Homo sapiens: one gene and its partners. The protein of the gene in region 3 purifies or fractionates together with the protein of the main gene of each other region. This does not show direct contact. Each region holds a gene or a part of one and is shown on either strand. Other genes may lie near its edges. The genes, in order: ZMYM4, ST7, RNF19B and WDR48.

What was found.
Region 1: the proteins of RNF19B (region 3) and ZMYM4 purify together in Homo sapiens (affinity purification with mass spectrometry; 2 studies listed by BioGRID and IntAct, with this or other methods). This does not show direct contact.
Region 2: the proteins of RNF19B (region 3) and ST7 purify together in Homo sapiens (affinity purification with mass spectrometry; 2 studies listed by BioGRID and IntAct, with this or other methods). This does not show direct contact.
Region 4: the proteins of RNF19B (region 3) and WDR48 purify together in Homo sapiens (affinity purification with mass spectrometry; 2 studies listed by BioGRID and IntAct, with this or other methods). This does not show direct contact.

What each region holds. Positions count from the first base shown.
Region 1 is NC_000001.11:35,271,697-35,278,731, reverse strand, and holds part of ZMYM4 (zinc finger MYM-type protein 4), read right to left. Parts: intron 1-7,035. UniProt on the Homo sapiens protein: Plays a role in the regulation of cell morphology and cytoskeletal organization.
Region 2 is NC_000007.14:117,131,483-117,138,517, reverse strand, and holds part of ST7 (suppressor of tumorigenicity 7 protein), read right to left. Parts: intron 6,634-7,035; coding exon 6,558-6,633; intron 4,395-6,557; coding exon 4,326-4,394; intron 2,438-4,325; coding exon 2,283-2,437; intron 84-2,282; coding exon 1-83. UniProt on the Homo sapiens protein: May act as a tumor suppressor.
Region 3 is NC_000001.11:32,935,914-32,940,809, forward strand, and holds the end of RNF19B (E3 ubiquitin-protein ligase RNF19B), read right to left. Parts: intron 2,616-4,896; coding exon 2,484-2,615; intron 1,397-2,483; coding exon of another isoform or gene 1,375-1,396; exon of another isoform or gene 1,347-1,374; coding exon 893-1,346; 3' UTR 536-892; downstream 1-535.
Region 4 is NC_000003.12:39,090,004-39,097,038, forward strand, and holds the end of WDR48 (WD repeat-containing protein 48), read left to right. Parts: intron 1-1,621; coding exon 1,622-1,698; intron 1,699-3,870; coding exon 3,871-4,063; coding exon of another isoform or gene 4,064-4,249; exon of another isoform or gene 4,250-4,644; coding exon 4,645-4,740; 3' UTR 4,741-6,661; downstream 6,662-7,035. UniProt on the Homo sapiens protein: Regulator of deubiquitinating complexes, which acts as a strong activator of USP1, USP12 and USP46. Enhances the USP1-mediated deubiquitination of FANCD2; USP1 being almost inactive by itself.

The DNA of each region.
Region 1 (7,035 bases), 2.3 Mb from region 3:
GTTCATGCTGTAGCTGGGCATGGTGGCTCATGCCTGTAATCCCAGCACTTTGGGAGGCCGAGGCGGGCAGATCACGAGGTCAGGAGATGGAGCCCATCCTAACATAGTGAAACCCCGTCTCCACTAAAAATACAAAAAATTAGCCAGGCATGGCGGCACGCTCCTGTAGTCCCAGCTACTTGGGAGACTGAGGCAGGAAAATGGCTTGAACCCAGGAGGCAGAGGTTGCAGTGAGCCAAGATTCTGCCACTACACTCCAGCCTGGGCGAGAGAGTGAAATTCCATCTAAAAAAAAAAAAAAAAAACAGAGTTCATGCTGTAATAGGTCGAGACTTTTGAGGATGTTGGGATGAGGTGAATTTATTTTGCATATGGGATGTAAATGAAGTTTTAGGGGTCAAAAAAAGAACTGTAGTGTATTAAACTGTGGCTCCCAAAAGTTATGTCCACCCAGAACCACAGTATGTGAGCAGACTAGATCTTTGGAGAGGTAATTATGGTAAGGATCTTGAGCTGAGAACATCCAGGAATAAGGTAGACCCTAAGAGACAGAAAAGAAGATGCAGAAAGAAGACCAAGGGAAGATGAAGGCAAAGACAGGAGTTTTGCCGCCACAAGTCAAGGAATACCAACCAAGCCACAAGAAGATAGAAGAGACAAGCAAAGATTCTTCCCTAGAGCCTTGATTTTGGACTTCTAGCCTCCAAAACTGTGAGATAATTTCTGATGTTTTAAGCTACCAAGTATGTAGCAGTTTTTTGGCAGCCTTAGGAAACTAATTTAAGAGACCGCCAATCATCAAAGATACAACAAATTGAACACCAAAAATAATGACTATGATAAATTAGAATGTATCACATATGGTAAAACTCATGAGTTCCTAATGATACTCCCTCCCAAACCTCACCTTTGGGAGTTGTGAGGGCGGGCATCAATTCATTTTTCTGAAAATTACTGATAAAGGGGAAAAAAATAAGCATTTATCCTGCTTTTTCTTTACAAACCGTATTACAAGGTAACCAAATAATTGATGAGGGAATTCTTTATGAAAGAATTCCAGTTAATAAATACAAAAGAAATGACCAAAAAAAATCACTCTTCTAATGAAATAATGGATATAGGCAAGAATTATCATTAAGTGAAAAGTTAAAAATAAATTACATTTGGATCCCACTGACAGAACCTAAACCAAATGATCCATTTAGTATCACTAAAAGTAGAACCACCACTTAAGTTACCTCCTAGAACGATCCAACAAGAATTCACAGCCCCATCTAATGGAATGACTATAAATCCTAATTTGTCTAGAACAATTCCAGTTTAAACTATTCCTTCTGTGTAATCATTATAGCACCCCCTTTCATTCTCAAAATTGTCTGATTGCAAATAAATTATATAACCACTCTTTATAAATATTTCTTGCCAAAGAAACTGAACCTAAACTCATCAAGCTCTACCAACTAGGGCTCTCAATCTTGGCTACAGACTGAAATCACTTGGTAAATTTTTTAAAATATTGATGATGACATTTTACCTCATGGGCTCTGATTAATTTATCGGAGATGTGGCCTAGGGATCAGGATAACTAAAAGCTCTCCAGATAATTCTAAAGTTTTAGCCAAAGTTCAGAACCACTGCTCTGTATTTAACTACTAATTTGTGGGAAATATGAGGGGTAAAGGAACATGTTAAATACCATAACAAGGATTCAATCAGCCAAATCCAAAATGTGGAAAATTATCCTGGAACAATAACCTATTTTTTTCAACAAATAAATAGCATGGGAAAGGAGCACAGGGGGTATGAGTTAAGAAAGGGGATTATTGGCTGGGTGCAGTGGCTCATGCCTATAATCCCAGCACTTTGGGAGGCGGAGGCGGGTGGATCACTTGAAATCAGGAGCTTGAGACCAGCTTGGCCAACATGGCAAAACCCTGTCGCTACTAAAAACACAAAATAAGCCAAGGCTGGTGGTGCATGCCTATAATCCCAGCTACTCGGGAGGCTGAAGCAGGAAAATCGCTTGAACCCAGGAGACGGACGATGCAGTGAGCCAAGATCACGCCACTGCACTCCAGCCTGGGCAACAAGGGCAAAACTCCATTTCAAAAAGAAAAAAAAAGGTGGGGGGAGGTGATTAAGGTTAAGAAAAACTTAAGAAACATATAAACTAAATGAAATGTGTAACTCTTAGTTGGATGATTTAAACAAATCAGTGTAAAAAGACACTTAAAGAATAAGAGAAGTCTGAACACAGACTGGATTAAGGAACTCTTTTGTTAGGTCGTAACAGTATTGTGGTTGTGCTTGTTAAAAATTCTTATCTGTTAGAAATACACACGGAAGTATTTATAGATTAAATGATGTGATGTGTGTTATTTCTTTGAAATTATTTCAACTATGGAAAAAAAGGAAGGAAGGAGGAAGGAAAGGAAAGGAGGGAAGAAAGAAGGGAGGGAGGGAGGGAAGGAGGGAGGGAGGGAGGGACAGAAATGAGTAGTTAGATGAGACAGGAATAGTAGATTAATTTTTGGCTTATAAATGTATAATATGCATGTCAGTATTAAAATACATTTGTAAGACATATTGGGAAGTGTAAAGAAAGAAAAACACATATGATTCTTGATATGTGCTGGGTTCTCAAAGAACTGACAGTGCTGGGTTCTATACGCTGGATAGACCAAAACAAAACAAAAAAAAGGACTATCTTTGGTCAAAGGCAGCTAATTAAAGCTTCTAGGAGGCCAGAAAGATGATATGAATGAAATTAAAATAACAATATAAATATTTCCTAAGTACAAGAAAGTGGGTATAGGTATGAGAAGGTTGGATAAGAACTATTACTACCCCAAAATTGCTAAATTCCAGAGATTATACCATAAACTGACTTTGAAAAACCCATGCTCCTGCTAATGGCTAAGCCACATAAAAGTGTCATTTTTTTTTAAGTCAAATGGTCAAGTATTAGCAATTTTGTTGGGTTGAATACAGTACATTTATACAATACTTGCCTTTCTCCTTTGCTAAAGTAAGTACATACAGTTAGCTCATAGTAAAATAATCAGAATTTTTAAGGGAAATATCACTTTTCTTTAAATAGTGGCTGTTCTCCTAATACAGAATTCAAAAATACCTCTTAAGTATCCATAGAAACTGAAATTTTATATTTATCTACTTACATATTCTTTAGTAAGAAAACCTTTCTGGCAAGGCACAGTGGCTCACGCCTGTAATCCCAGCACTTTGGGAGGCTGAGGCGGGCAGATCATGAGGTCAGGAGTTCAAGACCAGCCTGGCCAACATGGTGAAACCCTGTCTAAAAATTAGCTGGGCATTGTGGTGCACGCCTGTAATCCTAGCTACTCGGGGGACTGAGGCAGGAGAATTGCTTGAACCCAGGAGGTGGAGGTTGTAGTGAGCTGAGATGGCACCACTGTACTCCAGCCTAGGCGACAGAGCAAGACTCTGTCTCAAAAAAAAAGAAAAGAAAAAAGAAAATCTTTCCATTGTCAAAAAAAGTACAAACATAATCTTTAAAGTAAATCACAGCTTCAAAATATTTAGTGTATATTTTCTAAAAAATAAATGTGAGCTGTGAATACATATTTTAAGATGATCTCAAACAAAAATGTATTTCTTAGGGAACAAGTTAACTTAATGATTCCTAAGAAGTAACTTACATCAACTTTGTTTGAATGTAATTCAAATTATTCTAACATCCATACATTCCAGATAAAGAATTATGTGCTTTATTTTACAAATGAGAATATAAACACTAACCATAATATTTCTGGATAAACAAAAGTTCTAACCTATATGATCGAACAGGACCAGTTCAAGTAATAATTGATCCTGATTTAGCCATCATATCTCCAGCAAATCTCTCTGTGCCTTAATTTCCTAATTTATAAAATGGGACAATAATTGTGGTTGAAAAATACATCACATGTAAAATACTTAGAAAAATGACTGGCACTTAAGGGTTTATAATACCAAGTATTATCATTATTTATAGATGTCTCTGCTTATTACAAGATGGGAAGAACCAGCGTGTGAAAACAACTCAGAATCATTCTCAGTATTAGAATGGCCTCTCCTTTTTTTTTTTTTTTTTTAAAAAAAAAAACAGTGTCTCTCTTGCTCTGTCACCCAGGCTAAAGTGCAGTGGCACAATCATAGTTCAATGCAATCTCGAAATCCTAGGCTCAAGCAATCCTCCAAGCAATCCTCCCACCTCAGCCTCATGAGTAGACGAGGCTACTAAACCTCGGGTAATTTTTTTAATTTATTGTAGAGATGGGGTCTTGCTATGTTGTCCAGGATGGTCTCAAACTCCTGGCCTCATGCCATCCTCCTGCCTCGGCCTCCCAAAGTGCTAGGATTACAAGCATGAACCACTGTACCCAGCCACAAGTATTATTATTTACAGATCCCTCTGTGTGTTACAAGATGGGAAGCAGTGTGAAAACAATGCAGAATCACTGTATTTGAATGGCCTCTTCAAATGGTCTCTAAACAAAGAGTCAATACTTTCTAAAAGCAAATTATTCACATTGCATACATATAAACCGCAAATATTGTAATGATATGTACCGCCATGTTTTTAAGTAATACATTTAGCAAAAAGACAGAAAAGAGAAAAAGTTAATTAAGGAATTAAGAGGGATCAATCTTTTGCAATTATTTTATTATAAAATATTAAAATAACAGAAATTCAAAATAAAACTTCTCCATATCCCATCACATCATGAAGTCAATGCTTTCATTTGTTCGTATTTTCTACTGTCTATATGTGTGTTCAATTTTCACAGATTTATATATTAATAGATAACATTTTATAGTCTACATTTTCACTTAGCATTATACCATGAATACTTTTTCCACTTTGTGAAATTTGCACCCTTATACTCTCTTTCGTTTCTCCTCCCTACCCACTGAAGGTAATCAGTGGTAATATCCCAAACTGTGTCCTCCACAATTTTCTCTAAGTTCATACATGTACAAGCATATACAGACACAAATGTGGGGAGGCAAGAAAGGTCGTTTTGTTTTGTTTTTCACAAAAAATGGAAGCATACTACTTATACATATGCTTTCTCTCTTTTTTAAGCATACCAGGTATATACATCTCAAATTTAATACACACAGAATTTTAAGTATGAAAATGAATACAATTTACTAGACCGGGTAATATTTACATTTACAAAAGTTATTATTTTGTATGTAAACTTTGAAAAGACAAGGATTTTACAACAAAATATGGCCGCCCGATTTAGTTAGACCTCATACTTCATAACATACTGGTTATTATAATAGCCATGCATAAATAATTCAATCATTTATAATAAGCCTACCTAATGAGTCTTAAAAGCTATTTGAGAAAACAAAAATTTTATCATCTAAAAAAATTAAATAATATGCCAACTTTAAAGTGTGTGTGTGTGTATGTATTTGTGTGGGTGTGATGCTTGCTGTAACGCCTTCATGTATAGGCACTAGGATATGAACTTAATTCTCTCTATACTAGAGATGATAGATGAATATAGCGCTGATCCACCCACATACTCAGCTCCCCCGTGTTCACAAATTGAGAGACTAGCATTCCAGCATATTCTGAATACAAGTGTTCCGACTGCCCACAAATATAAAAACAAGACATCAGGCAGGCCTACCTAGAATTTAAGGTTGTTAACCCAATGGTCTTAAAATGCAGTCACCGGCTGGGCGTGGTGGCTCACGCCTGTAATCCTAGCACTTTGGGAGGCCGAGGCGGGTGGATCACGAGGTCAGGAGATCGAGACCATCCTGGCTAACATGGTGAAACCCCGTCTCTACTAAAAATACAGAAACAAAAAATTAGCCGGGCATGGTGGTGGGAGCCTGTAGTCCCAGCTACTCGGGAGGCTGAGGCGAAGGAATGGCGTGAACCCGGGAGGCGGAGCTTGCAGTGAGCTGAGATAGCGCCACTGCACTCCAGCATGGGCGACAGAGCAAGACTCCATCTCAAAAACAACAACAAAAAATGCAGTCACCTGCCCATCTAACCATAATCCAGAACAATCAGAAGATCCCTAAATCTGGATCCATAGGAGAGAACTCTGGGGAGTAAAGGACGCTATGAAAGATTTACAGAGCCCCTCAAAATTACAAAGCAGAGAACTTGGTACTCAACCCATAGAGCCTCTGCTGTACTAGGTAAGCTATTCTTACAAAAATAAGTCAGCAAGTCTTTTGAGTTCCTACTGTGTAGAGGTCACAAGATGTCCAGACGCAAAAAGCAATGAAATAGATACTATGTTAAAGGAGTTCACAATTTATCAAGAGAGCCAGCATATATTATCCTAAATGACCCTAAGTAACAAAGCACAATGCCTAGCATGTAGCTTATGAAATAGCACAGGTGCTTAGCAACTTTTTTGTGACATGATTACAAAGGTCAAAAGCAGTAAGCATCATTAAGTACAATACCATGTCATCAATGCAATTTCAGATTGAATAGCCTAAAGTTACTATCTAAGTCTATGTGGATAGTTTGTTTCAACTCCCTCAAGGCAGTCAATTTCCAAAGACATGGTACTGCATAGTCCCCATTAATCGGCTTGGAGTATACATATGGAATCCACATGTAATTTGGCACACACCAAAAAAAAGTGGAAAAAAGTACTTATATCATTTAAGACAATCATACCGAACATTCTAATGAAATATCAAAAACAAAATGAATTATGGATCAAAAAATATTATTTATGTATTATTTTTACTTTTTCTAGAGAGGGGGTTTCCCTCTGTCACCCAGGCTGGAGAGCAGTGGCAATATCATAGCTCACTGCAACCTCCAACTCCTGGGCTCAAGCAATGCTCCCACCTCAACCTCTGAATAGCGAGGACTAGAAGCATGTGCCACCACACCATTAATTCCAAAAATCAATGAATGTAATTTTCCTCTGTGATGAAACTGGCAAAATAATGGGGGAAACCTATACAAGTCCTGCGTATGTTATAGGTTGTTAAAAATAAAATTAACTTTTGGGCCAG
Region 2 (7,035 bases), on a different chromosome or scaffold from region 3:
CACTGCTTCCCTGGTCCTCCCGAGTCTTCTGGCACACATTGCTAGCCTTCTTTTGATGTACACCAAGACATTGGTGTCTCGTCCTGAAGAGGGAGATATAAAACACCAACATTTAAAAAAAAAAAAAATACAGAGGCCCATTTGCCTTGCCCCTAAAGGAAATTTTCATAGCACTGACAACTTTGTTAATAGTAGAATGAAGATCAAGTAAAGTAAAAGCACTTAGACTCCCAAAGGTCAAATCATCTGACTAATTACCTAATCCATGCTTTTGAGTGAGGATGTTGAATATTTGATAATAAATAAAATCATCTGCCACAAAGTGCTGCGAAAATGAACATACCCACAGTGTATACGGTTTACAAGCAGGAATTCCACATTCTTCAAGCGTGCATTCTTTTGGTAAAGATGCAGAGGTGAATCTCAGGTTACATCCTGATGAACTATTTTTTTTTCATTCTTGACATTAAGTCTGGAGAAGCCTCATCTTAAACTTCTGCTTTATATTATTCTTTCCCTAACACTAGTGACATCATAATCATCTCCAGGTCCCCTAAGCAGTTGATTTTAGATGGCAATATAACACATTCCAGATATGACAATAGAGTATGCAACAAAATGAAAAACTACCCTAGTGTTAGAGAAAGAATTGACAAGCTAAATAGTTGTAACAACAATCACTAAAATGACTCTTAAAAAGTACGTTAACAATTTCTAATCTTAATCTTTTATTTAATTATATGTCTTGTTGGATATGTTTTCAGACCAATGAGAACATGCATGTGCTTAATCCTCGATAAAAATTACCATGTTTGAGAAAATATGACACACCTGTTATAGATTAAGTACATGTATAATATGCAGCTATTAAAAGATGTTAAGACCAAAGTCCTAACATTTCAAGACTTAAACAATGAGAACAAGATGTGTGCTGAAAATCTGCCAAGTACCTACAAATTATTTTAAAAATGTGATTATATTTTTGGATGGATTTAGGCAACAGGTTGAAAAGATTTAATTTAGAGAAGAAAAGAAAGAAAATTAATGTTGTATTATAGGTTATGTAATTTTATGTATTGATTTCCATTTAGTTCACAAAATACACATTTACTACATGTCTTCAAAATGCACTGCATTACACTAAAATACTTTTTTATTAAAAAGTGAGACATAGATGGTGATTAGAGACTTTATTAGCATATATATGCTGCAGAATAAAAATAAAAACTTAGGAATTGATGTGGTACATGTGAGGACATACTCATGTATATGCAGGCTATAATGCAAAGATTTTGCTGGCACCTTAGTTATGGGGACTAATGCAGTCAGTTTCTACACCAAACCCAAGTTTAACGTTAACATTTAATTTTATAATCTCAAATATGAAGGAGATACATCCCTACTCTCTAAGTTTCAGGAGGGAGAAACTAAGTGAGAAACAAAATAACTTTGTGAATTTTGGTTGGACCATGGAAATACTCTCAAATTTTGGTTGGACCATGGAAATACTTAACTCTCTTACCACAAGGACTGCTAAATTTCTGCTTCAACAACAAACAAACTGATGAGTCGAGGGGCTCAGGGAATTCCAGAAATGATTTCGTTGTTTTGTTTCTATACTGTTCCCCCACGAAATGTCATTGGCTTTCAGTTTAGTATACTGAAGTGAAAGGTCTCAGATTTTAAAGAGTTATCTTAAATTTAAAAAGGCGTTTTTTGGGGAGTTTAAAAAGGCATTATTTTAATATAAAAAAGATAAATAACTAGGAGCTCATGGCTCTTTCTCTCTGGAAGCCAATACCAATGTTTCTTATGTAAGAGATAAATGCTGATACAATCACCAATAACTTATATTCTTAATTGTCCTATTTCAATCCATGTTGTAGAAGATCTATAAGATAAAACCTTTGCTAACACTATGGCTAATTTAAATCCTGTTTCCCATCTGGGTTTTAAAGTTGTGAGCAGAAGCAACTGATGAACAGAAATATGTAAGAACTCAGGAGGAAAAAAGGTTACTATTAAAGGTTACTGCCATTTATTTCTGCGGTTAGGAATCTATGGGCAGGAAAGAGAATGTGAATATAAACAGCAATGAAGCTGTAAGTTAATTATTTACTAACTGCACTTATAGGAAAGAAGAAAATTAATAAAAACAAAGCAAAAGCCAATATTTTCTCTTGTCTAGGAGAATCATATTTTGAACTGGACTAAAAATTTGCTCTGATTAATAATTTTTACAATTCTGATCCCCCAATGCATCAACCTGCAGGAAACCTTACTATGTTGGGCTTCATACTGGGATCCATGATGTTGTAGCTGCTGAGAGCGTCGGTAACAGCCATCTCCAGCCTTCAGGGCCTGCTTAAATAATTTTTCTGCTTCAGCAATGGTTGTTGCTTCCTCTTCAGCCAAGAGAATATAAGCAGTTGCACACCTGTTCATTCAGATAATAGCCACCATCAATTACAAAGCCAAGGACATGGTAATAGACTGTAGGAGCTCATGCAGAAAGGCAAGGAGTTACGCCAAAACATGCAGAGTGGCCAACTGGTTCATGCACTCCTGTTTGTAGTTGCTGACACAAAATAATGGTACAAAAGAAACATCTGTATTTTAGCTTGAGAGGTAGGATGCGTAGTGTTAAGAGCATGGGGCTCACATGTGGACTTCACCCTTTATATTAGTGTGTCACTTTGGGCAAGTTCTTACTCTGCCTCCCTGATGGAGAACAACATGGAATCTTTGTTCACAGTGTTGTTGTGAAGGTTAAGTAAGGTGATGCATGTAAAGTGCTCAGTACAGTAGCCAGCATGTGGTTAAGTGCTCAATAAATGTCAGCTAGTGATGGTGATGATAACAGCTGTTATTAAATAGTTCCTTCCAACACTCAAAGTTAGAGGTGCTATATACAGGTTTACTTCTGTTAACTAAACACAGATTATCTTCAATCTAAGGATTTCTTCAGAATAAGAAATTCGTTAAATCAAGTTACTCACTGAAAAAAAACACAGTGCTTCAACATCTCTTTACAGTTAGCACTGACTTTCTGCTTCAGAGAACACTGGAAGAACCTACAAGTAGTGTTATTTCTGAAGAACTCAAAATCTGACTCAGCCACAGTAGCTAACAAGTTAAATCTCATGCCTTCAACAACAATAGCTACCACTTGTTGCTTAGTATATATTAAGCACTGTACCAGGCACTTAACATATATCATCTCATATAATCTTTTCAACAACCCTCTTAGGTGGGAAGCCAAAAGGATAATTAATGAACATGGGGAGTTCTTGTGAATTTAAACCTTCCAAAGCATATGAGGAACAACCCACTGCCAAAGAAAGGGAATGTAATAGGGAAGTGGTGAGGCTGTAACAGACCACGCAGGTCCTGCACCCATCCTTTCACTCTCCTTCCCCACTGCCTCACTTGTGGCCATTTCCCTACTTATTTCCATCAGACCACAAGAGAGAAAATAAACAGAAAGTAAAACCAAATGTTACTTTTACTGTCCACAAACTGCAATAGCCAGCTAGGAAAAGGAGGCTGAACTTCACAGCTAATGTAAGGGCTGGGGCTACTAGTTAATCTTAGCCTTAGGAAGGGTCTGTAAGGTCTTTAGCCAGTCTCTCTAATTTCAGGCAGGAACCATCAATGGGGCTTTAAACAATGTGGTGAGGTAGGGAGAAAAATGCCCAGAAAAACAGCTATAAAACCAATTTCTACAGATGGCAGCATCCATGACTTGGAAAGAACCATAATGATGCTGAAACTATACAAGTGATTCACTGGAGAAAATAACTGGGACAGGCATCAGAAGAAATGCTTAAGGCTTCAGATGCCAACATATAAATATGAGGCAAGGGTAATGAAGTGAAAATTGAGATTGTAATACTGAGTGGTAGATACAGTATCAGAGGAATTAGCTATAAGATTGTAGTTGTTGGGCTGGGAACCCAAGAATGGTTGGGGCTAGCTTGCTTGCTTTGCTTATTTATATTTCAAATGGTATTCTTAGGAGGAGAGGCAGAGTAGCACTACTGGCCAAGAAACATACATCTATGTGGAAACGCATGAGTTTGGGATAGAAACATGCTAAGAGCTTGTGAGTGAAGGAAAAAGGAGAGAGCAATAGAAGTGCTAATGGTTGGGGAGTACAGAACAGACTGCTCAGCTCGATGGAAGATATAGATGATGCATCCTTGTCACAACACAATACACATACAGAAGCAAGAAAGTGTGGTGATGGGGGTGTCAACCATCCAGATATCCACTAGAAGTCTCATTTGGTTAGAAGTAGGGCACCCAACAGGTTCTTGACTTACTTTGGTAACAATTTTATCTCCCAGATGGTAGAGGAAGCAATTAGGGGAACTTCAACTCTGGACCTAATTCTGACCAAGAAGAAAAAAATAGTTGGTAAAATGAAAATTGATAGGAACATTCAGAGAGAGTCACTATGTCATTTCGGAGTTCAGGGTAATCAAAGAGGGGAAGGTGGACTTCAAAAAATTCAAAGAAAAGAGGCATGATTCAATGGCATGAGATTCAGAAGGAAAAATGGTTTAAGAGGGTTGAGCAGCTTCCAAATGTTCAACTGTAACTGCAATCACAAATGATCCTCTCAGGAAGAAAAGAGGGGTGGCACTTAAGTAACCAACACGGCTTCACAGAGATTTCTCCCAGGTCAGATTTTTAAAGGACATATTTTAAAAGATGGAAAGAGGGCATGTAATGATGGTCTATAAGAGAGTGGAATGAGCTTATAAGAATAATGTCAGGAGAGCTACAATTCCAAATTAGCTGAAGCTTGCAAAAATAACAATAATAATAATAATAATAAAACAAAATAAAATACTAAAGACAACCATTTATTCCCTATTTTAAAATTATATTTAAGGCCCTATCACCGTCCCCATGTCACAAAGGCAAATAAGTAAAAAAAAAAGACAAACAACATAATAACATCAAAACAAGGAAGGTTTATTGTTAAAAGCAGTAGATAATAAAGAAAAAGCAAAACTCTCTCCCTCCTATTTTGTTCCTGGCTTCTCTATCAAGGAGAATGACTGTCAGACTGAAAAAGGGAGAAGAAATTAAACTCTAAAATGGGTAAAAAGATGTAAGATAGCAAATAATTGATCCATTCTAAATGAATTACTGGACTGGATGGGCAAATCCCAGGAAACCGAAAGACCTTGTAGGCAGGCCATGGAATTGCTCTCTGTGGATAGTTGAGGAATCACAAAGAATGGAGAGGTGCTAGAAGATGAGATGATAAATGTAGCATAAATTTTCAAAAAGGGGAAGAAGGCAGACTTCCCAAACTACAGAACACAGTGATTTGGAAAGATATTCTAATGGATTATTAAAGGAATGGTCTCCAAGCACTTTAAAAAGAAAGTAGTGACGACTAGAAGCCAGCTTATATTCACTAAGAATAAATAAATCAGATTGTGCTAGCTTAATTTACTGTAATAGATTTACTATAAATTTAAGATCCGCAGCTACGATTGGCATTCTTAAGATCCAAATGGAGAAATATGAGCTGAGTCACAGTGTAACTGGGTGGCTTAGTAATTGAGTGAACAATACAAAAGATGGTGATTCATGAAGACATGAACCTGGAGGGTAGTTTCTATGTCATGTCACAGGGCTCTATTCCTGGCCTTCATATTTTTCTCAGAAATATGGATGACACACAGAAGGCAGGCATATCGAATTTGTAGATGACAAGAAACTGGAAAATAAATATGTTGCATGACAGAATCAGAAACCGTAGATCAACTGGTTACAATGGCAGGATTTTCAACTCTCACGACAATCTTTTTTTTTTTTCCCTAAGATCTCTGAAGAAGATTCTGTAACCTTCTTCAGAAAAATCATAAAATAGTTTAACAATGACCACTTGGCAAGGATAGTGTTGAGGTGATTCAAGCACCAGATGGGTGGTTCAGCTAAGTGACCTTTAAGGTCTCTGCCAACCCTGAGTTTTTATGACTCCAACTTTAAGAATCTTTCTCATTTTCTGAGATCTCCAGAAGAGATTTCCCAGCCTTCCTTGGTAACCCACAGAATGTTTAACAACACTCAAGACAGCATTTCCTCTTATCTTTGTCTTAATCTTGAAGTATTTTCTAAAATTTTTTTTTTAAACCTTATGTTGTTATCATGTTTTCCCCACTAGCAGAAGTTCTACTAGAAAATGTTCTAGTGCAGATGAGCATTCTACATCTGGAAAATTTTCCCTGTCAGAATGTTTTAGATATGTAAAGAATTGTATTTATTTTATATCCTCACAATATCCTAGGGATAGCCCTTCAAGAAATTAATTTAGGATCACAGCAAAGCCATTGAATTCATAAAATGACTAAAACCACCTCCACATGGTGGCTGTCCTTCATTTAAAAAAAAAACTTTTTTAAATAGAGTAATAACTCCCCAAATAATCCTCCAGTTCAAATGCAGTTTAATTTAAGTATCCTATCAATGGCAACTGAATATATTCAGCAAAGGATGAGATTTCCTTTTTAACAGCAAGATTTTCCCCCACTTACTCATTTATCTCCAAGGCTTCATGAGCTGCAGAAATCCTAGCTTGGGGGTTTCTCTCTCTCCAGGCTTTCTGCATTACTATTTAAGAAAAAGAGAAAACACCAAGTCAATCCATACATATAATTAGGTAGACTCAGTAGAGGACAAGAGCTAAATTAGGAGTGTCAGCTTAAATTACAAGAACATATTTCATTGCTAAGAGGGTTGGCCAAAATCTCCAAAGTCATATTAGTGTATTAATGTGCTATTCCACAGTATTTCAACTGCTGATAGCAAACCTTTTTTGTGCTCACAAAACTACAGGCTAAGGAAATCAAGAAAAGGCACTCTAACAGAGATTTTGCGTGTCTTTTGCACATTAATGTCATTTGTTCTTGGAGAATATATTTTATGCATTTTGAGATGACATTGCTACCAACCTTTTCATTCACTTAGATACAACATAATTGGTCATTTTCCGAAGCACTTAACACAGACTCT
Region 3 (4,896 bases):
AATTTTTGTACTTTTAATAGAGGCGTGGTTTCACCATGTTGGCCAGGTGGGTCTCAAACAGCTGGCCTCAAATGATCCACCTGCCTCGGCCTCCCAAAGTGCTGGGATTACAGGCGTGAGCCACCATGCCTGACCACTGAGAATTCTCTTAAGAGCTACCTGGGACTGCCACTCCTTCTCTCCTCTGAAGCATATGACTACTAGTGACTATAATGCAGAAAAGGGCAAAGTTTTAAGAGTAAATTGCACAGTTGCTTCTAGAGGGCAAACAAAGTTAGTTTTAATCTACTGCTTCCCTATTCAGCTGACTCAGCTAATAATTCTTCAGCCTGACTACAAAGTCCAAAACAAGCCTAGCTTTGCTTCCTGTCATGCTAGGAGTCATAGGTTTATAGATGACTACTGCGGTTGGATTTGAATACAATCCTTCTTCCCTTGGATTAGAAAAATTCAGGTCTAGAGACTGTCAAAGATGGTGCTTTGTTTCAAACACTTGGCTCTGTGGGACTATCCAAGCCAAGGAAAATGAGGTAAGTTGAATTATGACAGAAATCTTTATTAAAATGTGTCTTTCAGTAATATGTTTAGCATTCAATATACACACATACATATGTACACTCTTTGACACACCTCATGGATTGCTGCCATCAGTTTAACCAATAAATTAAAACTAAAAAGAGGGAGGGGAGGGGAGGGGAACTAACGGCAAACTTTTCATGTTTTATCTGGTAAGAAATTGTGAATTTCTCAGAATTTCCCTGGGCAAAAACCTGTGACCAGAGAATCTGTGAAATAAAATACATAAATCTCTACCCCTTGGAAAAAAAAAAAAAAAAATTCCAAAAGATGCAGTTACAAGTGTGCTTCTCAGAACAGGAGCATTCATTCCACTTCATACTCTGGCTTCTCCACCTTCTGGCTTCAAGACAGTTTGTCCCTCGGCTAGGGCAGAGAGGTTCATATGGGCACTTGGGCTCGGTGCACCTTGGGCTCTGGGGGTCGAGGGGCAGGCTGCAGTATGGGAGCGGGGGGAGCCACACTCATCTGAGGTGATGTCTGGCACATCGTCTGACTGTGCATCAGAACTCTCTAGGTCACTGCGGATGCTTTCAGGCTGGGCCAGGCTGATGTCCCAAGGTTTGCTGGCCAGGCAGTCTTTCTGTTCACAGCTTTGGTGTCTGCAGGGGGGATCCTCTTCACTGCCTCCGCCACCACTACCTTCTTCTTCATTCTCTGCCATCTGAGCATGAACATGGAGCGAGTCCTCCGTGCTGCTTCCACTCACCAGCTGATAGTGGCTTGGTTTGGCTTCAATGTCCACTTGGATTTCCATATTGTTGCATTCTCTGTGGAGACAAAATCCACTTTGCTGAGTCATGCATGGATCATGCTAAACCTGTTGGTAAAAGCAGTTCATGGGTTCAGGATTAGGAATTTCAAAAAGATAGGTGAACAGTTAACTAGAGCTCACTTTTAACAAAAATAACATTTTAATCTAACACTCAAATGAGATGGAGGCTGGACGTGGTGGCTCATGCCTATAACCCCAGCGCTTTGGGAGGTCGAGGTGTGAGGACTGCCTGAGTCCAGGAGTTTGAGACCAGCCAGGGCAACAAAGTCAGACCCTGTTTCTAAAATAAAAAAAATTAGCTGGGCATGGAGGCACGTGCCTGTAGTCCCAGCTACTCGGGAGGCTGAGATGGGAAGATCACTTGAACCCAGGAGTTCAAGGCTGCAGTGAGTTATGATTGTGTCACTGCACTCCAGCCTGGTTGACAGAGCAAGACCCTGTCTCTAAAAAAACAAAAATAAAAATAAATGAGATGGAGAAGAGTAATTAGATCCTTTTTGCTGATTTAACTATACATGCACACGTGTGCTCAGATGCACACACACGTGTATCTCAGCCAATCTCTTTAAACATACAGAAAGAGCTTCCAAAATTCAACTAAGGGTCAGAGCCCCATGCTAGCTTACTCAAAATAGAAAAGTAAAAGCTTTTTACTACCATGCCACAAGTAGAAGAAGCCAGAATACCTACTAGTGGGAGTACCACAATCACACCATCCCAGATACACCAGTTTCTCAAAATGAAAGAGAAAGAAGCTATGGGAATCCTATCAAGCAAAGGGCAAGCAGAAACCCTAGACTTGAAGACATCAATGAACATCAATCTAGCTCTTTAAGTTCCATGTAATTATACACTGTTGCAATAGCCAAGAAAGACAAAAAAAAAAAAAAAAAAAAGAAAAAATACATAAAAGGAAGAAAGAAAAGAAATCTCTAAAAATCAAGCGCTAACAAGAAGAATCAAGAGATGCCAAACACTCAAGTACCAAGAACTTGCTCAAATGAATTCACAGGTTACACTATATATCCCAGGAGATGGTACATACAGCCCTAACATGAGGCATTGAACTTCTGAAGACCTAGTACCCAACGAAAAAATGCAACCTCTCCTGGACATCTGACTGTTCACATACCTGTCCTGTGGGTTGTAGGAACTGATTATGGAACCGGCCATAGCACGAGTGCTTGCGTTGTCACTAATTGCACCAAGACTGGCTGTGTCTTTGGGGAAAATTTCCTTTTGGACATCGGCTTGAACTTCTAACCTGTGTAAAGAGGGGACGTTCAAGTTAATATGAGACCTGGGTATTCCAAGACAGTCTGCTTCCTGGCACACATCTCTTCCATTACTCTCTTGCAAATTGTGGTTGTCTGTCTGATCTTCTCCAACTGTCAAACAGCGCAAATAGATGCCCATACATTTTTTCTCTTAAATATCTATTGAAATCGTCCCCTCCTTTCTATCCCCACAGCTACTGCTGAACTTCAGGTTTTCATCATCTCCTGCCTGGATGACTAAAACTGGGCTCCCTCTCCAGTAGCCCTTAAGTCCAAGTCAAACAACCTCTAGAACAGTGCCAGTGTGAATAAAGACCCAATCACTCTAACAATTCTCTAACTCTTGGCTCCCTACTGCCAACAGGCATTAAGGTCTTCCTGATCTGCCAGGAAGCTCTCTGTCCAGTTCTATCACTCCCTATAGATCCGAAATCATAGTCACTCTGAATTCTTTCTTTCTTTAAATACCTATACATTTTATACTTCCATGACTTTGCACATGCTATTCTGTCTCTCTAGAAATTTCCTTTCTCTACCAGACAAACTTATACTCAGTCCTTAACAACAAAGGAACTATCACTTCCCCTCATTATCCCAGCAAACCATTCACTTCTTGCTAAGTACTCCCACAGCACCTGCCTACTTATTTATTATTATTTGTTTTTAGAGGGAGTCTCACTCTGTCACCCAGGCTGGAGTGCAGTGGCACGATCTTGGCTCACTGCAACTTCTGCCTCCCAGGTTCAAGCGATTCTCCTGCCTCAGCCTCCCAAGTAGCTGGGATTATGGGTTCCCACCACCACACCCAGCTAATTTTTGTATTTTTAGTAGAGATGGGGTTTTACCATGTTGGCCAGGCTGGTCTTGAACTCTAAACCTCAGGTGATCACCCACCTAAAAAAGGTGCTGGGATTACAGGCGTGCGCAGGCCCTGCCTACTTATTATTATGCATCTCTCACTTGTCTGTTAACTCCACAAAAGGAGAGACCACAACTCATACACACTTTACCTTCCCTGCCTTGCACATAATAGGAAATCAAACATTTAACAATCAAATTACCTCCAGGGAATGAGACTGAAGGACATACAGGAGCCAACCTCTTCCCTCCTCTTGGAGCAGCAAACTTTCCCAATAGTGTCTCAGAGCCCATAACTATTGCCTTTCTTGGCTCCAACATCACTTTGTTGCACAGTTAAGTATTTCCTTATAATGGGTTTCACAGTCAAACCCATCTGACTCATTCACTTCCTATAAAATAAAGGCTTTCACAGAACTAGAACAGCTGGACTGGCTAAGCTGCAGTTTCAGCAAGTCAGTCTCCAATTATGTCTGTCTGCTTATTTACAGGGGTGTTGGTTTTAAGAAAGCACAGCAGTGAATATGCCAGCATGTGGGGGCGGGATCCCCTGATAAGAGACAACCAGAGTCATGAGATGCACAGACGGGTCAGTAGCAGCCTGCAGCTGCACATTCAAGCAGCTTCCATCCTACTGCCTGAGCCTTTGCTTTGCTGCTCCAGCTTCAGGTGCCCTTCAAAAATGTGCCAAGGCCCAGGGAAATGAGGGAATGCAATGGAAAGTGCACAGTGTCAGAGACCTGGCTTCTAGTTTCAGGTCTGCCACAGAATCACTCTGAGTTGGAAGAGTCTTTCAGAAAGGGCTCCTACTTAGGTGGTTGTCAGATGCTGGTTCATGCAACGGCTGTGCTAGAATTACCTGGGGAGCTTTTGCAAAACACGGATCACCCCCTAGGTGCCACTCCAGGAAATTCTAAGCTACTCATTCTGGGATGGGTCCCTGAAGTCTATTTTTAAGAGGCTCCCAAGTGATTGACAGGCACTCAGGTGGGAGATCCAGTCCACCTGCCATCTGTTGCTTGAATCCTTCTTATAGCCAAATAGCCATCTGGTCTCATTGTAAACATTTCCAGGGATAGGCAGCTCAGTATCTACTAAAGTAGCCTTTTTCCTCTTTGGGCTTTCATGTTGCTTTTCCCTATATTCTCTATACTGAACCAAAATTAGTTTCCCTTTAGCTTCTGCCAAGTCATCTTAATCTACCTTTTGGTATGAGGCATAGAAGTCTAATCCTTTTCACAGTTGAAGGTCCTTTGGATAGCTGAAGGCAACCATCTCCTCTACCTTCCTATCCTGCTTTGTTCTACCTTTACCCCTCCCTAGGCCTTTCTTCTCCGTTGCATTCAACTGCTTCTCAGGCAACATGTTATGCTCCTCTGAAAATATACACTCTGGTCTGCCTAACTAGTG
Region 4 (7,035 bases), on a different chromosome or scaffold from region 3:
TAGAAGTGGAATTGCTGGATCCAAGGTTATGCACATTTTAAATTTTGATAGATACTGCCAAATTGCCCTCCACAAAGGCTGTAGTAGTCTACATTCTCACCAACAGTGTATGAGTGCCCATTTCCCCACACCTGCACCAACACTGGATACTTCTAATCTTTGCTAAAAAATAGGCAAATAGTATCTCATTATTTTTATGTGGATTAAAAACAAATTAATAGTGAGGTTAAGCATCTTTTCATATTGGCCATTTGTTTTTCTTCTGTGAATTACCTGTTTGTATTCTTTACCCATTTTTCTATTGGGTCATTTTTCTTACTGATTTGTGGGGTGGTGGTTTATATTGAATATTAACCCTTTAACTATTATCTGTGTCTCAATTAAATTTTCACTTTGTTCCTTTTGCCAGGTGAAAAGTTTTACTTTTTATATAATCAAATTGATCCTTGATGGCTCTTAGTTTCATGTCTTGTTTAGGTATTTCCTACTCCAAAGTAACAAAAATATTCTCCTATATTCTCTTCTAGTTCTTTTATGATAATTATGTCTAGCTCTCTAATCTATTAGAATTTAGTCTTCTGTTTGGTGTGAAGTAGGATTTAGACTTTTTCCAAAGGGACAGCTAGTGTGCTAGCACAATTTATTGAAAATCTGTCCTTTTTCTACTTATCTGGGATGCTATGTTTATCATGTACTAAATTTCTGTATACACATGGGTCTGCTTCTAGACTCTCTTATGTACTGTTGGTCTATTTTGTATCTTTCTAAAGCCATATGAAAAGGAATTTAATCTTTAGAACCTTCAGAAACTTTATTTTCTGTCCCGGATATACCTCTAAGACTTAAAGCCAATGTGACACCTGATGGATATTCCATGGTCTTCTCTATGCCTGAGCACCCCATAAGCCACTAATTTCTTTGAGTGTGAAACTCACCTGGGACGCATTGCTGACTTTAGCCCTGTGGCTTATTCTTGAGAGGAGACATCCAGACAGGATGTGACATGAAGGCTTGGAGGGGATTAATACCCTGAGAAAAGATGACCACGTAATTTTATCCTTCATCTAAGAATGTGGTTTACTTCATGGTAGACATCTGGGTTCTTGGCTGAAGTTTCCACTCTTTCTTAACACCTCAGACCTCACTGTGATGTCAGAGGGAAAGAAAATGGGAGGACTTTGATTGGCCTTTTCAGTTGGATGATGGGCCTCACCAGCACAGAATGTGTGGCTTTGCTCAAAGGTGAATGCTGTGGGTTTCTCTCAAGACACTTAAGTTTTTGTTTGGGCCTTTAGGTATCAACTCCAATATTTTAATGTAGAATTGAGATTCTGGTTTGTATGGCTTAAAAAATTAAAGTTTGTTTCCCTTTAATACCTTGTACTGTTATCTAAGAAGAGCCATGCTACAATTTCATATTACCTCTAATGTTACATATATTTTTCTGATGAATTTTCTCGAAGGCTGACTTAGGTAATTTGATAGCTTACTATACATTTCATAGAAAGTCACTTTTAATTGTAAGATAATTATTACTTGCAAGTCATGTTTTCCTATTAACATTATTTTCATTTATCAACTAATAGAAACTGTTATACCTTTTTAACTTTTACTGTTTCAGAAAAATATGCCCAAATTCAACAAAATTCCTTTCTACCTCCAACCTCATGCATCTTCAGGAGCAAAAACCTTAAAAAAGTAAGTAAATATATGGTTTCTTGATCTAATTAACTACTAGAGAGAATTCCTTTTCCTTATGATTGCTTTTATAGCAAAGGAAGCAAATACCAGATCTAAGGCTGATTTTATAATATTCAAAGTTTATACAATTAAACCACTTACCAGGTACCAACTTTGGCCGATTACAGGTGTTCAAAAATAAATAAGGCCAGGTACAGTGGCTCACGCCCATAATCCCAACACTTTGGGAGGGTGAGGTGGGAGGATTAATTGAGGCCAGGAGTTTGAGACCAGCCTGAGCAACGTAGTGAGACTCCTGTCTCTACAAAAGATTTAAGTAAAAAAATTAGCTGGGCATGGGAGCACACGCTTGTAGTCCAAGCTAGCCAGGAGGCTAAGGCAGGAGGATCATCAGAAGTTTGAGGCTGCAGTGAGCAAAGATCATGCTACTGCACTCCAGCTTGGGCAACAGAGAGAGACCCTGTCTCTAAGAAAAAAATGATAAATAAAACACACATTTTGTCTGTTGCCTTAATTCACAGTTTAGGACCCAACCTGTATATAATAGTTGTTTTTATGGATACTTAAGGAATAATGAGAGTGAGAGAAATAAATGAGCTTTTGGCTGGAGCTTCCCAGTAAGGCTTCTTGAAGGACGTGGAATTTGAGTTGGACATGTAATGATTGGTAGAACTTCAAAAGATAGATATTCCAAGTCCAGGACACAGTGTGATCAGGGATGTGGAAGTGGGAGCATGCATAAGATAGTGGAAAGTAACGTGAGGACCCATGCACCTGCAGCATGGGATGGAGGGGCAGCAGGGGGATATTAGGAGGTAAATTGGAAAAGCAGTTAAAGGTTTTGTTGATGTTGGATTTGAATGCCAAGCCATAGAGCGTGCAGTGACTAAACACCAGAAACTTTTGAGCCAATGTGGGATATGGTCCAGGGAGACCCAAGAGAAGAATTTTAGTAGTGTAGTAATGGGATGCTAAACTATGAACAATATGTATTCTAGCAAATAAAATAAAAAAAATTTTTAAACCTTTTTATTACAGAGATTTCCAAACTTATATAGAAAGAAGCTAGTGAGCCCCCATCGTCCCATCAGATAGCTTCAGTAATTATCAATACCTTGCTAAACATTTTGCTTCACCTATACCTCTACCTGCCCTCCCACCCATCTCTGTCTACACACACACACACACACACACACACACACAATTATTTTAAAGTGAGTCCTAGACATCAGTTCAGATAGATTTAACAACTGAAGTTCAAATGATTTTCAGAGCGTAGGCCTTAGTTTTTTGGTATAATAGTTATTGACTGTTATCAGAGATACAGAAGTAGGGTGTTGATGAGTCTAGTTTGGGACATACAGAGTTTGAGGTGCCTGTAGGACATCCAACTGAAGATACCCAACCAGCTGTTGGGTTTGTGGTTTAGAAGAGAAGGTTGAGACTCAAGGTCTAGACTCAGGCATTGTCTGCTCACAGGTGCTAGCTGAAGGCATGGCAGTGGGGAGGAGAGCCCAGGGAAAATTGAGCACTAAGAGTGTCGGACCCTGGTAAGCACTGGGAGCTGCCTGCCTTTCCAGAATTATTTAGTTTGCCCAGGTTCTGGGAAAGTATTCAAGGGAATAAAACCCAGAAGGCTACTATGTATGTATATGTAAATGTTTTTGTTTGTTTTTCTGAGATGGAGTCTCACTCTGTCGCCCAGGCTAGAGTGCAGTGGCGTATCTTGGCTCACTGCAGCCTCTGCATCCTGAGTAGCTGGAATTACAGGCGTGCACCACCATGCCCAGCTAATTTTTTGTATTTTAGTAGAGACGGGATTTCACCATGTTGGTTAGCCAGGCTGGTCTTGAACTCCTGATCTGAAGTGATCCACCTGCCTTGGCCTCCCAAAGTGCTGAGATTATAGGCGTGAGCCACCACACCTGGCCTGTATATGTCAAGTTTTAAGAACACATATTAATCTCATTTAGTTGTACATAAACTGTGTCTTAGAAGGACACTGTAGAAAATCTTTCCGCAGCTCTAAAAATGGATTAAGGTAATGACTAAAAACATTTATTGGTTTATTTTTCATCTTTAAAATGTTTGCATCAAAGAAAAATAATATGGAATAAATAATATCTAGTGATTTCCCTGATGTCACAATATGCCATTGCTTTTTTACAGAGATAGACTCTCTGCTAGTGACATGCTCCAAGTCCGAAAAGTTATGGAACATGTTTATGAAAAAATTATCAACTTGGATAATGAGTCTCAAACCACTAGCTCTTCTAATAATGAAAAACCAGGAGAACAGGAAAAAGAAGAAGATATTGCTGTGTTGGCAGAGGAGAAAATTGAACTTTTGTGCCAGGACCAGGTAAGTGGACTTGAGGACTACAGCCCCAATTTTTCCAGTGCTGGTGCTCATAAAGAGTTACATGCCTTTGGGTGGGGGGCTTCTACTTTTAGAGGGGCTCTAAGGAGCCCTGGGCCTCTCCTACCTAAAGCCCACCCTAAAGCTCCTCTTTACTGCTGGGGAGATTTTCAGAGAAGGGATACATAGACAAATGTGGATGTGCTGGTAGCTTTTTTTTCTGACAAGAAAAAAGACACATGGTCTTCTTGATTTGCAAAAAGCATGTGCCATGTTTATGATTTAGAGTGAAGGTGTGCGGAGAAATGGCAGAACTGTTTTTTAAATCAAGATGCACTCAAAACGTATCCTCAGAGGAATGGCTGAAAGATGGCCTGGTGTTTCTGGCATAGTCACAAAAGATGTACATCTCACTAAGCTCAATTTCATTCCCGCATGCATGGAAGCCGTGACAGCAAGAATTGGATACCAGGCATAGGGGAGGAGTGAGCAAGCTGGATCACCTGATGAGAGTCCCTGAGTTAATGATAAGGTTTTAGATATTAGAGACTTTGAAATTTTTAAATTTAATTTTGGCTATTCAGGTTTTGGATCCAAATATGGACCTTCGAACAGTGAAACACTTCATATGGAAGAGCGGTGGAGACCTCACCCTCCATTACCGTCAGAAGTCCACGTGAAGGCTGGGCTAATGCTCCTGGATATTCATTTACGACCTTCCTCTATGGCCCCAAGAGTAGTCCTAGGAAGCCCACTGATCCCCAACGGGAGCAAGACTTCTAACGGCTGATTGGTATGGACCGAGATTATCTTTCAATTGAAGTGACTAATCGAGATGTAATATAGAAACCAGTCTCCATGTGTAGATTAAGCTGTCCCCAGGGAAGCAGAGTGCAAGAGCAGAAGAGCCCCAAGCAGACTATGTCTTTCAAGATGTACAGAAGACTGACAACAGGCCAGTGCAGACTTTGCTTCCTCCTTTTGTTTCAAAGGACCTTATCTACCCATTAACACTTGTTAGAGACACCTCAGTCGGGCCACAACTGTCTCTGTTTCAACTTTAAGCCCACACACTCTGTAGCTTTTCTAAAACAGTACATTCCATTCATGCAGTAGATATGAAGGCTTTTTCCAAGTTTGTCATATAAAGTAATCAAATTGTTTTCACCGTTTAAGACAGTTATTTTTAATGGGAATTTGCTGTTGCACAATTTGAGAACCAGCCCATTTCATAATAAAAGATTAATGTTGGGCTTGTTGTTAATATTGCATCTCAGATGTGTTCTTGTAGGAAGATCTGTTGAAATTCCAGGTGCTGGATCATAGCACTTGGACTGTTGGGCCGGAGTTTGTGCAGCCCATGCCTAGCGATGCTGCACCTCCCATGATGTCCTGGCTTTGTGGCAACCCCAGGGAGGTGCAGCAGTTTCACTCCTTCCTCCACTGTGTCCAGTTTTATTTACACAAAGCGAGCTGAGACCACAGGTTCTTGCTCTGGATGAGCAGCATGACACCATCAAAATTTAAGACCATGATGAAATTTCAGTTTCATTCAAATGTTACCTAAAATTTATGGTGTCAGAATAAAGGGAGATCATAGTGAGTTAATTTGATATTCATATCCTGGAAGTATACATATTTGTTTTTCCAAAGTTTTATATGCAGGTTTTTGTTGTACCTGTATCCAGATCTTCTTTTCACTGTTCTAACAATCTAACACTTTCATAGAATCATTTGGATCTTGTATAGAGTGTAACTTATTGGGGATAAACACTTCAACTTTTGGCAGAAAATACTTTGGATTCTCCCCAAGGTCATTTGTATTCAGAGTAAATCAGTGGTCCACCCCCATAAAACTGTAAGACAAGCCTCCTGTATGAAGCCAGAAGCACAAGTGCCTTCAGAGGGCAGTTGATTCCAGTCCAGTTGCCTCCCTAGCTTGTGTGTGGCCTGCCTCCACCATAGCAGGGACTAGGGAGGGAGGCAGGGAACGTTTTTTCTTTTCTACATCTTCACAGGTTCGGCTGGGGGCAGCTGATAGGCCTAAGGCCATACCTTACTATTTAAGATACTCTGATCGCACAACTGCAGAGACAGGGTTCCCTCACTGCTAGTCAGCTTCTTTTGGAAACTGGACAGGCCATTGCCACCTGCACTTTGAAGAAGTGAGCAAAGACGTGGCCACATTTCTAATAAGTTGAAATGGTCTTTCTCCCTTCCTCAGAGAGCAACCAGCTTCTTTTTTTTTAAAAGTCCTTTCTATCTGTTGGATACAACAGTGTGCTTTTGGTGCACATTTTTTAGCAATAGTTGTGAATTAATGGCAAAGAAAAAAAAAATTATTTACCAGCCCTCAGTTGTGTTTGCCCGAGGGGCCTTTGAGCAAAGAAATGGGTTTTGCTGGGTCATTTTGCCCTGTGTGCTAAGCCTTGGGTGGCTGCATTCCCCTCCTGTCATAGATCTGACCCCCAGCATGATTGTATTTCTTTCCCCTCCAGTCAAACCGTAATACAGTTTCCAGAAAATTCGACAGTCTGCAATGCCAAAAGGGTAAAAATCTGTATTTCACAGTTGTATAGAATAAAGGCTTTAGTTAAAATATTTCAAAGTGTAGTACACATTTATTTTCATTTGTTATTTTCTTTCATAGCAGATTACAGAGAAAGAAAGAAACCTCTGGTTTCATGTTCTCCCTGGAAATATTAGCATTGATACCCATTTTATCCTCCAACTTATGGGGGAAGGGAAAGTAAAAGTGAGGGAGGGAAGAGCCAGAACCTTTGGGTGAGGGCAACTTTGGGTCAGACTGCCAGGCTACAGAGTTAAGGGAAGCTGGCCCCAGAACAGTCCTGTGGCGATTCTGTTCTACTTCCTGCATTCCAGCAGACTTGACACTGGGCTCCCAGACGATCCAGGACACAATGCCTCACTGTTATGCACACGTATCAGCTGCTCTGGTAGGCTTGACAAGGGTT